2 separate regions of the Homo sapiens genome follow, and region 1 is linked to region 2. The links come from fine-mapping of genetic effects on gene expression. Tissue or cell type: tibial artery. Region 2 holds a variant in brackets; the other region holds the start of a gene. All regions are shown on one strand. Distances are from middle to middle.

The links. PIP is the estimated chance that this variant, and not a neighbour inherited with it, causes the effect.
Region 1: ANKDD1A starts here. The variant in region 2 is fine-mapped to the expression of ANKDD1A in tibial artery (GTEx, PIP above 0.99). The same link has a PIP of 0.9 or more in lung.

The regions. Positions count from the first base shown.
Region 1 is chr15:64,907,333-64,915,416 of GRCh38, reverse strand. ANKDD1A (ankyrin repeat and death domain containing 1A) reads right to left here and starts at 3,515. Exons shown (of 15, transcript NM_182703.6): 1 at 3,453-3,515. The coding sequence starts at 3,486. RefSeq lists enhancers at 1-52, 2,760-3,303 and silencers at 3,490-3,669, 3,870-3,919, 3,993-4,287.
Region 2 is chr15:64,948,087-64,956,188 of GRCh38, reverse strand. ANKDD1A (ankyrin repeat and death domain containing 1A) reads right to left here. Exons shown (of 15, transcript NM_182703.6): 14 at 6,217-6,348. Among named protein-coding and RNA genes, the nearest start is that of SPG21, 38 kb to the left of the region's middle. The variant T/C (reference allele first, on the strand shown) is at 5,053.

The DNA of each region.
Region 1 (8,084 bases), 41 kb after region 2:
CTCAGTCTACACAGCCAGGATTTACTGAGCCACCTACTGCGTGCCAGCGCCGGGTGAGGCCAGAGGCATGTTTACCCCACTCCTGCACATTCCGTCTCCTTGTTCCTCCACCCCTTCTTCCAACCCCTCTGTTGCCCAGGCTGGAGTGCAGTGGCGTGATCTTGTCTCACTGCAACCTCTGCCTCCCAGGTTCAAGCGATTCTCCCACCTCAGCCTCCTCGGTAGCTGGGATTACAAGTGTGTGTCACCACACCTGGTTAATTTTTGTATATTTGGTAGAGACAGGGTTTCACCAGGTTGGCCAGGCTGGTCCCCAACTCCTGACCTCAAGTGATCTGCCTGCCTCGGCCTCCCAAAGTGCTGGGATTACGGGCGTGAGCCACAGCGCCCAGCCTCTTCCAATCACTCTTGCCCAAATCCTAACCAGCTTCCACCTGCCCACGCTGAGGCTACCCTGATTTTCCTTCTCTGTGGTCTCTCTTCTCTGTGCTCCTCTCACCCCCATCGCTGCACCTTTAGCACAGAGTCTCAGATTAAAGGGAACCTCAGAGCTCCCCCTGCCAACCCCTGTCACGCACACCTGTGGGCTCAGGGTCAGACTGCATTAGTCTCTGAGCCAGGAGGACACAGGTCCAGATGATCCCCACCGGAGCCCCATGCTGCCATCATCCTGACGGCTCTTGATTGTGAGGATGTCTAGTCTCCATGGCTAGACTTCAAGTATTTTGGAGGCCCTGGCCACACTTGACCCTTCCTGATCCACCCACAGCTCACAGCAGGCCCAAAGGTGGGCACAGGAGGAACCCACAAAACTCTGCTTTTGAGCCAGGCATGGTGGCTCATGCGTGCAATCCCAGCACTTTGGGAGGCCAAGGCAGGAGGATGGCTTGAAGCCAGGAGTTCAAGACCAGCCTGGGCTAAAAAGCAAAACCTCCATCTCTACAAAAAAGTTTTTTTAAAAATTAGCCAGGTGTGGTGGCACATGCCTGTAGTCCCGGCTACTCAAGAAGCTAAGGCAAGAGGCTTGCTTGAGCCCAGGAGTTTGAGGCTGCCAATGAGCTATAATTGCACCTCTGCACTCCAGCCTGGGCAACAGAGTGAGACCCTGTCTCTAAAAAGAAAACAAAAACAGGCTGGGTGCAGTGGCTCACACCTGTAATCCCAGCTCTTTGGGAGGCCGAGGTGGATGGATCACGAGGTCAGGAGATCAAGACCATCCTCGCCAACATGGTGAAACCCCGTCTCTACTAAAGATACAAAAATTAATTGGGCATGGTGGCACACACCTGTAGTCCCAGCTACTCGGAAGGCTGAGGCAGGAGAATTGCTTCAACCTGGGAGCTGGAGGTTGCAGTGAGCCGAGATCATGCCAGTGCACTCCAGCCTAGTGACAGAGCGAGACTCCATCTCAAAAAAAAAAAAAGAAAACAGAAACAAAAAAATCTCTGCTTGTATGAGTGACACCAACAATCCCCAGACGAATAGATGCCTGTCCCCTCTCCCAAAGTGCTCACACATACTAGCACAGAGACAAATATTTGCTGGCCCTTTCCATAGTCACTGCAGGGCAAGTGACCCCATAGCCTGCATGTTTGGTCCAGTATGAATGTCTGAACCCAGCCCCTTTGTGTATCCAGGGACAGGTGACGAGTGTCTTGGTAGGGAAGGCTAAGATGCACTGAGGTGAGAGACAGGCCTGCCATGCAGTTTGTTTTTCTAGATAAATTCCACACAGTCTTCTCCAGATGAGAAAGAGGATCTTGAGCTTTCTGGGGCCTCATGGATACAACCTGTGGATCTCAGAGTTGCTACCCTGGGGGGCAATCACACAGTCCTGGGTTCAACTCTGGCTTAACCACTTCCTAGCTGTGTTAGGCAGTTTCCTCATCTGCAAAACAGGAGTGCGAGCTTCCCTACAAGGTTAATATCATGATTAGAAATGAGATATGAAAACCCCCTGGCACAGTGTCTGGCACATAATGACCACACCGCCACCACCACCACCATCATCATCACTATTATTCCTCCAAGGCAAAGGGTCAAATTCTGGTAGCCAAAGAGAGCTGCCACTTCAGATGTGAGCTTACAGAGGCCTGGGTTCTAGTACCTTCCCTGCCACTTTCCAGCAGCAGGATCCTGGGCTAGTCACATCCCCCTTGTAGGTCTGTTTCTTCCATTGTAAAACTGGGGGAGGGTGAAGAAAGAGATCTGTATAGGTCCCTTCCTGTCTGGCACCCTCTATCTTATGTGCAGCTTAGGGGGATTGGCCTGGTTTGTATTGGCAAACAGCCAGGAGTTCCAATGGGAAGCCAGCAGACACTGCATAGGGTCAGGCCAGAGAAGGTTAAGTTAGAATGAAATCAAGTCCAGTCTCATCTCTTCCATCCACCTCCCATCCGGCACCCTCTTTCTGGCCACATCCAATACCCACTGAGCTACCTGAGCCTTTGCCCATGCTGGGTCTTTGTCCAGAATTCTCTGCCACACACCCCAATGCTCCATTGGTACACATTCTTCGCAGGCCCACTCAAGTGATCCTCCGCCCCAGGCAGAACCATGTACCTAATCTTGATTGAGCATTCCCACCCCCAACACATCCCTCAGCTGAGTAGATGCAGTGTGCCAGCATTTTGGACACTATAGGTCTCAAAGGAATCCAGTGAGCTGCACTATGCGCTTTTGAGGGAAAGCCCCGGGATTCAGCTGTCAGGATTCAGCCAGGGCTGCAGGATCAAGGACTCACAGTGCAGACACCGACACAATCTTTCTCTCCCCTCTCCCAGACGGTGCAGCCAAAGCTGCCCCAGGCCAGCTGATGCCCACACAGACGCTGCTGCCCGGCCTAGAGGCCCTGGCACTGGGCGCACTCCTTGAGGGAGGTTCGGAGGTGCCCTCATTCCACCTGTGGCCAGTCAGGCTCCTCTCCTCTGAGTGCGTGCCCCATCTGATGCGGTCTCCACTCGCTATCCAGCCCCAGCATTCCGGGTGAGCTGGGCCCTTCAGCACTTCTACCACTCAATGGCTGTGTGACCTTGAACAACTCATTTGAACACCCTGTGCCTCAGTTTCTCATCTGCGAAATGAAGATAACATAATGTCCTACCCATATGGCCGCAGCGAAGATCAAATGACGTGCCTCTCCTGGGTCAAGGCCTGGCACACAAAGTACAGCACGCAGTCAAGGATCGCTATTACCTTTATTATTTGTAGCTAACCTCTCAGCCGCTGCTCCCCGCTCACCTGGCGGGTGTGGTCCCCGAGTCCCAGACGCACTGGCAAGGTCCCCTCGGCCCAGTGCGCGGACCGGTAACCATTCCGCTCGGAGCCACACAGACGCCCCACACGGAGGTGGCCGTTCGGAGGGCGCCAACCTCACCCCTGGCACTCCCCAAACGGATGCGGGGGTCCTCTCGGCCTCGGCCCGCCCCCCTCCCTCCTCCAGGCAGACTCACGGCCGTCGGTCTCCCACGCCAGCTCCTCCTGCATCCTGCCGCTCCGCAGCCCCTGCGCGCGCTGGTGCCCGGGCGCGAGGCGCGCGTCCGCCGGGGCGGGGCCCGGGGAGCCGAGAGGACGGGGCGGTCGCTCCTCCAGACTCCACGCCCCGCCTGCTAGGAGCGCAGCTGCCCCGGCCACCCCAGTCCCGGACCAGGACGCAGGTCCCTCCTCCTGCTCTCTTAACCTGCCCACCCCTCCGCGCCCGAGGCCGGCGGGTCGGGGCCACGCCGAGTTCCGCAGGTGTCCCTGACCCAGTCTCCTCCCCGGGAGTTCGCCCAGCCTCCCCGGCCCTGGAGATAGATGCGCACAAGGCATCTGGCAGGCTCATCCTCCTCGCGCCTCTCGGGACTCGGGGAGGAGGGCTGAGCCTTGGGCCCGCCGCCTCAGGCGCAGAAAGTCAAACCCCAAAGATGTGAGCTGGCGTTTAAGGGACCACAACCTCAGCAGGTCTGCAAGCATATGAAGAGATGGTCGGATTTATCAGTGTTCAGAAAGATTTATCAGGCCCATAAAGGGACATGTAGGAGGATGTTGGTTGCTGTGTTGCTGTGGTTGCTGGGAGTTGGAGACAATCTAAGCGCCCTTTCTTGTAAGAGCAGATGGATAAACTGTGCAGCACTCAAAGCAAGGGACCCGCTGTATTCGTGGCAATATGGATTTAAACACCTAGTGCTAGGCAGAAAAAGTAAATAACCAAACCAAATAAGACCTAGGAAACAATATCAATAAAAATATTACAAATGCATTTACATCAAACAACACAGACTTGCAAAGACACATAGAAACAAAAAGATACACATTAAATACACCAGAATGGGTTGCACTTCAGACCCTTGGGGGATGTCCATGTCCTTTTTGCCTTAAAGGCATTTACAGCTTCTTTGAATTTAGGGATAATGGGGTCTCAGGCATCTCTATCCCAAGGCAAGAAGCCAGCAAAGCCATGATAGGTGTAGTTACTACTACTTTGGGGATCAAAGGAGGAAGAGCATCTTTCAGTCATTAGTCCTTAGAATATAGTTCAAGAAGGCTTCCTGAAGAAGGAGGTATTTGGAATGGCCTTTGAAAAATAACATAATGATAACAGCTAACAATTAATGAGCCCTGAGCCAACCCCTCAAAATGGTCTCAAAATAACAATTCCAACATAATAATCAAAGATATGATTTTTTTTTTTCTGAGACAGAGTCTCACTCTTTCGCCCAGGCTGGAGTACAGTGGTATGATCTCGGCTCACTGCAACCTCTGCCTCCTGGGTTCAAGCAGTTCTCCTGCCTCAGCCTCCCATGTAGCTAGGATTACAGGCACTCGCCCCCACACCTGGATAATTTTGTATTTTTAGTAGAGATGGGGTTTCACTATGTTGGTCAGGCTGGTGTTGAACTCCTGACCTCAGGTGATCCACCTACCTTGGCCTCCCAAAGTGTTGGGATTACAGGTGTGAGCCACTGCGCCGCACCCCCCCCTTTTTGTTTTTGTTTTTTTTTTAAGACAGAGTCTCACTGTGTTGCCCAAGCTGGAGTGCAGTAGCGTAATCTCAGCTCACTGCAACCTCTGCCTCCCAGGTTCAAGCGATTCTCATGCCTAAACCTCCCAAGTAGCTGGGACTACAGGTGTGTGCCACCACACGCGGCTGATTTTTGTATTTTTAGTAGAGACGGGGGTTTCACCATGTTGGCCAGGCTGGCCTCGAACTCCTGACCTCAGGTGATCTACCCACCTAGGTCTCCCAAAGTGCTTGGCCACCACGCCTAGCCAAAGATATTATTCCTGAAAACAGTTTAAATGTTTTTTGTAAAGCTTTTGTCACATGTACATCCCACTAGGGGCATAGTGTCACGTTACTGTTTTAGTCACTTGGAATAGTTCTTTATGTGGTTATGCCACCAACTCAACATGCATGGTTTATTTATTTTGTTTTGCTTTTGTTTTTTGATATTTTTAAATGTTAATTTTGCTTTACAATTATGTAAAGTATTTACATGTTTCAAAGTTAAGTCTCTGAAGGTTGTCATAGTCAGCTGTGGTGATGGATGAAGAGGGCACCACTGGCTTCCAGCCTGCTGTCACTCTCCTTCACTCCACATCCAGCTTTTCTTCCCAGCTGCTGAGCCTGCTGACCAACAGTGGCCCCAGGCCATCGCGGACTTGGCTGCAGACCCAGGGCATTAGTACCACCCATAGACCTCCCCAGGAGCTTTCCCTTGTGGTTCCATTTTAGCAGCTGGACATACTTGGTTTCTCAGATGACTGACTAAGGACTCCTCTGATCCCCAACTCCCCTTCTGGTCCTTCCGCAACTGTGTAAGGCAAATTACTATCACAGATCCCTAATCCCAGGGGTCTCCAACCCCCAGGCTTCAGACTAGTACTGGTCTATGGCCTGTTAGGAACTGGGCCACACAGCAGGAGGTGAGCAGCAGGAGAGCGAGCATTACCACCTGAGCTCCGCATCCTGAAAGATCAGTGGTGGCATTAGATTCTCATAGAAGGGTGAACCCTATTGTGAACTGTGCATGTGAGGAATCTAGGTTGCACACTTCTTTTTTTTTTTTTTGAGATGGAGTTTTGCTCTTGTTGCCCAGGCTGGAGTGCAATGGCTCACTGCAATCTCTGCCTCCCGGGTTCAAGCAATTCTCCTGCCTCAGCCTCCCATGTAGCTGGGATTATAGGTTTGCGCCACCATGCCCGGCTAATTTTGTATTTTTTTAGTAGAGATGGGGTTTCACCATGTTGGTAAGGCTGGTCTCAAACTCCTGACCTCAAGTGATCCACCTGCCTCGGCCTCCCAAAGTACTGGGATTACAGGCGTGAGCCACCATGCCCAACCTAGGTTGCACACTTCTTATGAGAATCTAACTAATGCCTGATCATCCGAAGGGGAACAATTTTATCCCAAAACCATCCCCCCACCACCCAAGTCCTGTAAAAAATTGTCTGCCACAAAACTGGACCCTAGTGCCAAAAGGTTGGGGACCAGTACCCTAAACCCATAACCTCAACATGATTCTGCTTCCTTCACTGCATCCTGACTGACAAAATAACATTTGTGTTGTTGATGCTTACCCTTATATTGTTTAATTTAATCATATATTCTCCCTTTACTGCAGTAGCATACTATATATCATCTTCTTACTTTGCCCTGCCCCTTAAAATTCACCCATTTAAGTGTATAATTCAATGGTTTTTAGTACAGTATCGTTCAGAGTTGTATAACTATCACCACTAAATATTTTCATCACCCCAGAAAAGAAAGCCCATATGCTTTAGCTATCACCCCCCCTTGCAGTTTACCCTCCCCAACCCTCCACACACAGCCCTAGGCAACTACAAATCTACTTTCTTTCTCCATAGATTTGCCCGTTCTGAACATTCTTCTGGCTTTATTCTGGGAACAATCTACTACAGAGATCTCTCCGCAGTAGTCTGTTGAGATCTTCCTGCATCCTTTGTACAGCCTCAGAGTCCTCCATTGGGTGGCTTATTCAACCACTCCCTGTTGATGGACATTGGCCCTGTTTCCAGACTTTTGTTATTACAATAGAGTTACAATGACCAACCTTATGCATGCATCAGTTGGTATTTTTACCAGTGCATCTATGGGATCTATTCTTATAAATGGGATTGCTTGGTCAAAGGGTAAATGCACATATAACTTTGCTAGCTATTGCCAAATTCTCCTCCATAAGGTCCAGAAATATTTTGCATTTCCATTACCAATGTATGAGGGTGCCTGTTTCCAAGGAGAACATTCTGTAAAACTTGGATTTTTCCCAATCTGATAAGTAAGAAATAGTAATTCATTATAATCTTAGTTTGCATTTCTATCATTACAAGAAAAGTTGGTTATCTGTTTCTATGTTTAAGAGCCGTTTTCTTTTCTTTTTTTTCCTGAGAACAATCTGTTCTTATCCCACTCATTTTTTAAATGATTGTTGGCCTTTTGCTTAAGAGAAATTTTAAAACAGCTTTTTATTTCTTGTCTTATTAATGTTTGTTCATTACTAAAGAAATTTTAAAATACAAAGAAGGGGCTGGGAGCGGTGGCTCACGTCTGTAATCCCAGCACTTTGGGAGGCCGAGGTGGGAGGATCACGAGGTCAGGAGATCAAGACCATCCTGGCTAACATGGTGAAAACCCATCTCTACTAAAAAAATATATATATATAAAATTAGCCGGGCGTGGTGACGGGTGCCTGTAGTCCCAGCTACTCAGGAGGCTGAGGCAGGAGAATGGTGTGAACCCGGAAGGTGGAGCTTGCAGTGAGCTGAGATCAGGCCACTGCATTCCAGCCTGGGCGACAGAGTGAGACTCCGTCTCAAAAAAACAAAAAAAAAAAAAAAGAAGGGACAAAATACAATCAATCTACCAGAAGACGCCACCATGAATCACTTGTTATATATTGCGCTAGCCCTTTTCTAACAAAAGAAAAAAATACACACACACACACACACACACAAGAGTGGTAAATATTTGCTGGTCTTGTACCAGCATTTGGGAGCCAGAATGGCACTGGTTTCCTCTCTGCTTAGAGCAATCAGCTGCTTGAGAGGAGGGAGGGAGTGGCAGAAGCTCCCAGCCAAGTGGG
Region 2 (8,102 bases):
GAAAGGAAGCTTTTTCTCTAAAAATGGTGCAGCTATCCTCTGAACCAATTTCCTTCGGTTTAATGTACCTGTATCTTGGGGTTTTTTTCCACTTAATTTATCCTGGAGCTCTTTCCATAACAACACTTGGAAAGCACTCTCATCCTTTTTTCACTGCTGAACAGAATTCCACTGTGTGGATGGAACATACTCTATTTCACCAGTCCCCTGTAGCCAGTCACTTGGTTTGTTTCCAATCTTTTGCTTTTTCAGAGTAATAACCTTGTATGTCTATCATTTTGTATGCATACAGGTTTATATGTAGGAAAAATTCCTAGAGTAGGATTGCTGGACCAATGGATAAAAGTATATTGTGGACAGACAATGCCAAATTGCCTTTCAGAGACTGTGGCCCTGTGCACCCCATCAGGCATGTGTGACTACCAAAGCTCCTGTCAGCTGTTTTATTTTATCTCCTTTCCAGTCTCAGGCTCAATGCAGAACTTTGAGGTAAGCTTTTCTAAAATGTAGGCTCCTAAACGCCACAGCCAGCTCTGCCACATGAAGGAGAGCTCAAATGAGACAGAAACAGCCTCTGGGCAGGATTTCTATCCTGCACAGATATATTTTCCACATTCTGGGAAACCGTGAAGCTTCCAGAGCCACAATTCCCCAGAAACACATCCCCCTGCTGGTACAGCCAAGCCCCAGAACAAGCTGTGCTTGCCTGGCACCTCAAAGCCAAGCACCATGGATGCCACTTGCTATGGGTGCCTGCAATTTCAAATAATGAGAAATAAGAAATTTCAGCTTCTCAGTCCCTCTAGCCAACATTTCAGGTGCATGACAGCCTCAGGTGGCAAGCAGCTACTCTGCCGGACAGGGCAGAAGATGGAACACCCCATCCCTGGGGAAGATCACGAGGTCAGGAGATCAAGACCATCCTGGCTAACACAGTGAAACCCCGTCTCTACTGAAAATACAAAACATTAGCTGGGTGTGGTGGCAGGCACCTGTAGTCCCAGCTACTCAGGAGGCTGAGGCAGGAGAATGGCGTGAACCTGGGAGGTGGAGGTTGCAGTGAGCCAAGATTGCGCCACTGCACTCCAGCCTGGCAACAGAGTAAGACTCCATATCAAAAAAAAGAGAAAAGAAGAAGAAAGAAAGAAAGAAGAAGAAGAGGAAGAAGAAGAAGTGGAAGAAGAAGGAAAGAGGAAGAGGAGAAGCAGGAGAAGAACAAGGAGAAGAAGAAGGAGAGAGAAGAAGAGACAAGAAGAAGGAGAAGAAGGAGAGAGAAGAGACAAGAGAAGAAGGAAGAAGGAGGAGGAGAAGGAAGAAGAAAAGGAGAAGAAAGAAGAAGAAGGAAGAAGAAAGAACAACAAAAAGAAGGAGAAGAACAAGGAAGAAGAACAACTAAGGAGAAGGAAGAAGGAGAAGAAGAAAGAAGAACAAAAAGAAAGAAGAAGGAGAAGGAAGAAGAAGGAGGAGGAGAAGGAGAAGAAGAAGGAGAAGAACAAGGAGAAGGAGAGAAGAAGAAGAGACAAGAAGAAAGAAGGAGAAGAAGAAGGAAGAAGAAAAGGAAGAAGAAAAGAGGAAGGAGGAGGAAGAAGGAGAAGAAGGAAGAATAAGGAAGAAGGAGAACAAGGAGAAGGAAGAAGAAAAGAAGAAGGAGAAGGAGGAAGAAGGAGAAGAAAGAGGAGAAGAAGGAAGAAGAAGGAGAAGGAAGAAGAAAAAGAGGAAGAAGGAGAAGAGGGAAGAAGAAGAAGGAGAAGACGACGAACGAAGGAGGAGAGGAGGAAGAAGAGGAAGGAAGAAGAAAGAAGAAGAAAAGAAAAGGAAGAAGAAGGAGAAGAAGAGAAGAAGGAGAGGAGGAAGAAGAAGGAAGAACTAAGAAGGAAGAGAAGGAGAAGAAAAGGAGAACTAAGAAGGAAGAAGAAAGGAAAAGAAGGAGAAGAAGAAAGAACTAAGAAGACGAAGGAGAGGAAGAAGAAGAAGAAGAAAAGAATAAGGAACAAGAAAGAAGGAGAAGAAGAAGAAAAGAAAGAAGAAAGAATAATAAGGAACAAGAAGAAAGAGGAAGAAGAAAGGAGAAAAGAAAGGAAGAAGAAAAGAGGGAGGAGAAAGAAGAAGAAAAGAGGAAGAAGAAAGAAGAAGGAGAAAAGAAGAAGAGGAAGAAGAAAGAAAAGAAGAGGAAAGAAGGAAGAAGAAAGGAAAGAAAGGAAGAAGATAGAGGAAGAAAGAAGAAAAAAAGAAACAATAGAAGAAGAGGAAGAAAAGAAAAAAGAAAAAGAGAAGAAAGAAGAGGGAAGAAAGAAAAGAGGAAGAAGAAAGAATGAAGAAGAAAGAGGAAGAAGAGGAAAGAAGAAAAGAAGAGGAAAGAAGAAAAGAATAAGGAAGAAGAAAAAAAGGAAGAAGAAAGCAGAAGAAAGAAAAGAGGGAAGAGGAAGAAGAACGAAGAAAAGAGGAAAGAAGAAGGAGGAGAAGAAGGAGAAGAACAAGGAGAAGAAGAAAGAAGAAGGGAGAAGGAGAAGAAAAGAAGGAGAAGAAAGAAAAGAAGGAGAAGGAAGAGGAAGAAGAAGGAAGAAGAAGAAGAAGGAGAGAAGAAAGAAGAAAAGGAGAAGGAAGAAGAAGAACTAAGAAGAAGGAGGAAGAAAGAAGGAGAAGGAAGAAGGAGAGGAGAAGAAGGAAGAAGGAGAAGGAAGAGGAGGAAGAACTAAAGAAGAAGGAGAAGGAAGAGGAAGAAGAAGAAGGAGAGAAGAAAGAAGAAAAGGAAGGAGGAGGAAGAAGAAGGGAGGAGGAGGAGAAGAAAAGGAGAACTAAGAAGAAGAAAGGAAAAGAAGGAGAAGAAAGAAGAACTAAGAAGAAGGAGAGGAAGAATAAGAAGGAAAGAAGAAAGAAAAAAGTAAAAGAAGAAGAAAGAAGGAAGAAGGAAAGAAGAGGAAGAACTAAGAAGAAGAAAGAGGAGGAAAGAAGAAAGAAGAATAAGGAACAAGAAAGAAGGAGAAGAAAGAATAAGAAGAGGAAGAAGAAAAAGAAGAAAAGAAGGAAAGAAGAAAGGAGAAAAAGGAAGAAAAAAGGAAGAAGAAAGTAGAAAGCGGAAGAAAGAAAAGAAAGTATAAGAAGGAAGAAGAAGAAAGAAGGAAAGAGGAAGAAAAAAGAGAGGAAAGAAGAAAGGAAGAAGGAGGAGAAGAACAAGGAGAAGAAAGAACTAAGAAGGAGAAGAAGGAGAGACAAGAAGAAAAGAAGAAGAGGAAGAAAGAGAAGGAAGAAGAGGAAGAAGAACTAAGAAGAAGGAGAAGAAGAGAAGGAAGGAGAAGGAAGAAGGAGAAGAAGAAAGAGAAGAAAAGAAGAAGGAGAAGAGACAAGGAGAAGAAAGGAAGAAGGAGGAGGAAGAAGGAGGAGAAGGAGAAGAAAAGAAGAAGGAGAAGGAAGAAGAAAAGAAAGGAGGAGGAGGAGAAGAGGAAAGAAGGAGGAAGAAGGAGAAGAAGAAAGAAGAAAGGAGAAGAACTAAGAAGAAAAAGGAGAGGAAGAAGAAGAAGGAAGAAGGGGAAGAAGAAGGAGAAGGAGAAGAAGAAAGAAAAGACGAAGAAGGAGAGGAGGAAGAAGAAGACGAAGGAAGAAGAAGAAAAGAAGGAGAAGAAGAACGAAGGAGAAGGAAGGAGGAGGAGAAGGAGAAGAAGACGAAGGAAGAAGAAAGTAAGAAGAAGGAGAAGACGGTGACGAAGGAAGAAGAAGGAGAAGGAAGAAGGAGAAGAACTAAGAAGAAGAAAGGAGGAGGAGAAGAAAACTAAGAAGGAGAAGAAGAAGAAGGAGGAAGAAGAAAAGAAGGAAAGAGGAAGAAGAAAGAAGAAGGAGGAAGAACTAAGAAGAAGGAGAAGGAAGAAGGAAGAAAGAAAAAGAACGAAGGAGGAGGAGAGGAAGGAGAAGGAAGAAGAAAAAGAAGGAGAAGGAAGAAGGAGAAGAATAAGAAGAAGAAAGGAGGAGAAGGAAGAAGAAGAAAGAGGAAAGAAGAAGAAGAAAAAGTAGAAGGAAAGAAGAAAGAAAAAGATGAAGAAAGAGGAAGAAGAATAAGGAAGAAGAAGAAAGAGAAGAAAGAAGAAGAAAAGAAGGAAGAAGAGGAAGAAAAGAAGGAAGAAGAAGAAAGGAAGAACTAAGAAGAAGAAAGAAGAGGAAAGAAGAAGAAAAAGAAGATAGAAGATGGAAGAAGAAAGAAAAGAAAGAAGAATAAGAAGGAAGAAGAAAGAAGAGCAGAAGGAAAGAAGAAGAAGAAAAGAAAGGAAGAAGAGGAAAGAACAAGAGGACGAAGAGAAAAGAAAAAGAAAGAAGGAAAGAAGAAAGAAAAAGAAGAGGAAGAAGAAAGAAGAAGAAAGAATAAGAAGGATGAAGAAGAGGAAGAAAGAAGAAAAGAGGAAAGAAAGAAGGAAGAAGAAAGGAAAGAAGAAGAAAAGGAAAGAAGGAAGAAGAGGAAGAAGGAGGAAAGAAGAAAAGGGAAGAAAAAGAAAATAAGGAAGAAGAAGAGGAAGAAGAAAGAAGGAAAGAAAGAAAAAGAAGATAGAAGGAAAGAAGATAGAAGAAGAAAAGAAGAGAAGAAGAATAAGGAACAAGAAGAAAGAAGAAAGAAAAGGAAGAAGAAGAAGAAAGAAAAGAAAAAGAAAGAAGAGAAGAAAGAAGAGGGAAGAGGAAGAAGAAAACAGGAAGAAGGAAGAGGAAGAAGAAGAAAAGAAGAGGAAGAAGAAAAGAAAAAAGAGAAAAGAAAAGAAAGGGAAGAAGAAAGAAAAAGAAGAAAAGAGGAAGAAAAGAAAAAAGAAAAAAGAGGAAGAAGAAAAGAAAAAGAAAGAAGAAAGAGGAAGAAGAAAGAAGAGGAAAGAAGAAAGAAAAAGAGGAAAGAAGAAAGAAGAAGAAGAGAAGAAGAAGAAGAAGAAAAGAAAAAGAAGAAGAAATAAACAAAGTGTGCCAAGAGCTCAAAAGGACCATACCTGTTGGACGGGATTACAGGCCCTTGGACCCATCCTCATGAAAAAGATCAGTGTACAAACATTTGCCTCCTGGGCTCTGCATGACTGTGCATTTCAG[T/C]AGAATCACCTGGAGGTCTGTTAACAGTGATTTTTTAAAAAGCCCTTAAATGATGGTCATCTTCTGTTCAGGTGGCTCCACACGCTGAGGTCCCACGTGCCTGAAGGTCTGGCCCCTCCGGTTACATGGCTGTGCACCTCCTGGGGGCACTCGGGGCTGCGTTTGCTTTCTTCCTGATATTTTCTGTTAAAAACAAGAATCTTACTTCCTCTGTTGCCTAAGCTCTGCCTCACAGGACTGGTTTTATGTTTTAATTGCATGCCACAGTTTGTGTTAAAAGATGTAACAACTATATTTAAGAACATTTTGGGGAAAGAAAGGTAGCGTCCCTAATCTCTCTACCCTGAAATGAGTCTTAGCTTTTCCACCTTGCCTATAGCAGCTATGGGGGGGGGGGGGGGGGGGGGCGGTCCTTTCTTTTCCCTCAATAATATGCTAGAAACATTTCCCTCAGCAATATACTAGAAATATGTCAGGAGTGGTTTTCTTTGTTGCCTCATATCTAATGGAGACTTCACAACTATCAGTGGCTGCCTAGTGCCCCATTCTGTGGTTGCCCCATTATGTACCACGTCAGTGGGTATCACAGCGTTTAAGGCTTTTTCATCATGAGCTGATTTTGTTTTTAATGAGGGATTAGTACTAGAACCTTCTATCCTGCTTGTCTGATGATTCCACAGAACACTGAATCCCATATCAGGCTTTTGAGATTGGCATACTCAAATAAGTTGTGATGACCTCAGAAGGTTTATTTGACCAGATTTGACTGGTTCAACTCATATTAAGTCAGTTTTGGCTCCTATGTCTTAATGTTTGTGAAAAAAGTCTGGAGGTGGTTCCAGGCTTATTCCAAAATGGAAAAAAAATGTCAAGGTATAGAGGGCTGGTAAGGAAGAGATTATGGACAGCATCACTGGCTCCGGGGCTGTGAAGGTCACAGGGTTCAGTTTGGGCCAACACCCTCATTGCACAGATGGGGAAACCAGGGCCAGGAGGCACTGTAGTTTGCCCAAGGGAAAAGAGGGCAGGGCTAGGGGTAGGAATCTGGAAGGCCTAGAGCCAGCATCACAGCATTCTTGTCTGAGCAGCCCTTGGAGGGCCCTGCTGCATTCCAGTGGGGGCCACCCAGCTCCTGAGAAGCAGCCCAGCAGAGTACGCTCTTACCAGCCAGGTCCCTCCTGCCAATGGCCACGAGGCCCTCGAACAGCGCTTTGCTGGGGTTCTCACCAGCCGTGGCCACGCCATGCAGCCAAATGAGCAGCATTCGGTGGCCGTGCTCCTGATAGCTCCTGGTGCCTGAGAACAGTGAGGGAGGAGAGAGAGAGGGAGAAGGAGCCAATGGGGCCACTTGACCAGAGCGCCTGTCTATGCCACCCTGCACCGCCTCCTGAACATGCCCAGGTGGGAAAGAGGCCAAAAGCCTCCAAGGCCCTTCTCCATGCTCCAGCCAAGCTCAGCCTGGAGATAGGTAAGGGGAGTGGAGGAGCAGCCTCTCAGATGGGGAGGGAAGGGTTTGTGTCTTGGTCTCTAGAACCTCCCCAGCCCCAGGCCTTCTCCTGAACACCCACTATGCACTCTGTTGGTGTCACTCTGAATGGAGAAAGAATTGACTTTCATCGTTGTGGTACCATGATGCACAAATTGTATACTTCACCTCTCTGGCTGCTCAAAATAATCTGTGTCTTGCATGATAGTGGTCCTAATTTACAGATGAGAATACAGCTTAGTCAGAGATGGAGCTGGCCATGCTTTCCCCTGCACCAGTGGTTCTCAGACTCAGCTGCTCCTTGGAAACACCTAGGGCCCATGTCACCCCCAGAGATTCTCATGTACCTGGGACTGGGTGCAGCCTAGGCATTTAACGGTTTCAAAATTTCCCAGGTGGTTCCAACATACAACCATGTTTGGAAAATAATTGCCCACACGGCATGGGGTTAACATGTTATTCAGCTGGCTGTGATTCAGCTGGCTCTCCAGTGCTGTGGAAACAGACAGATGCTGGGCCACGCCCATCAGGTCCAGGTCACTCCATTCGCCCCTCTGACCTTCCGTGCCCCTCTTGGGGCCCTCAGCAGGCATGTCCTCACGGTACTGCCCTTGGTGTGGTGGCACTTCCGCTTGACCCAGCAGTCTCAACACCATTTATTAACTATCTCTGCCCCCGCCACTGTAATGTACAAGTGCTTCTTTATCATATATGAAAGTTCTTATCCGTAGCAGCGTTTACTTTTGAACTCTGCTCTATCCCAAATTGATATGCAAATGTCAATTTGCATATTTTTGTGTCAGGAATCTTTTTTTTTTCCTTTGGGAGACAGAGTCTCACTCTGTCCCCCAGGCTGGAGTGTAGTGGTGGGATCTCGGCTCACTGCAAACTCTGTGTCCCGGGTTCAAGCGATTCTTAAACCTCAGCCTGTCGAGCAGCTGGGATTACAGGACCCGACCATCATGCCCAGCTAATTTTTGTATTTTTAGTAGAGACGGGGGATTCACCATGTTGGCCAGGCTGGTCTCAAACTCCTAACCTCAGGTGATCTGCCCACCTTGGCCTCCCAAAGTGCTGAGATTACAGGTGGGAGCCACTATGCCTGATCCAGATATCTCTTTATGTTAATTTTATTTTGGCTTTATAAAAGGCTGAGTCTGCTTGGGTTAGATCCCCTTTATTGTTTTCCCCCAGAATGTTCACTTTTATATCCCTGTTTATTCTTCCAGACAAATTGTAGAATACTTCAGTCAAGTTTCAAAAACCTATTTTGATTAAAATTAGATCAAAGTTTTAATCTAATTGGAGAAAAACTGATATTTATATGATACTTTTTCTTGCCACAAATACAGAATGTCATTCCATTTACACAAGTCTTTTATAGTTGAACCATTATTGTTTTATTCATATGTGTCATCTGTATTTGTCTTTTAGGTTTTCCAGATGAAACACACACACCATTGTAAATGGAATCTCTTTTAAAAGATTCTCTCTCTATATTTTTTGCCCATTTAGCCATGGTTCATAGGAGTTCTGTGGTGTTAGTATATTTTCTATATTTAGC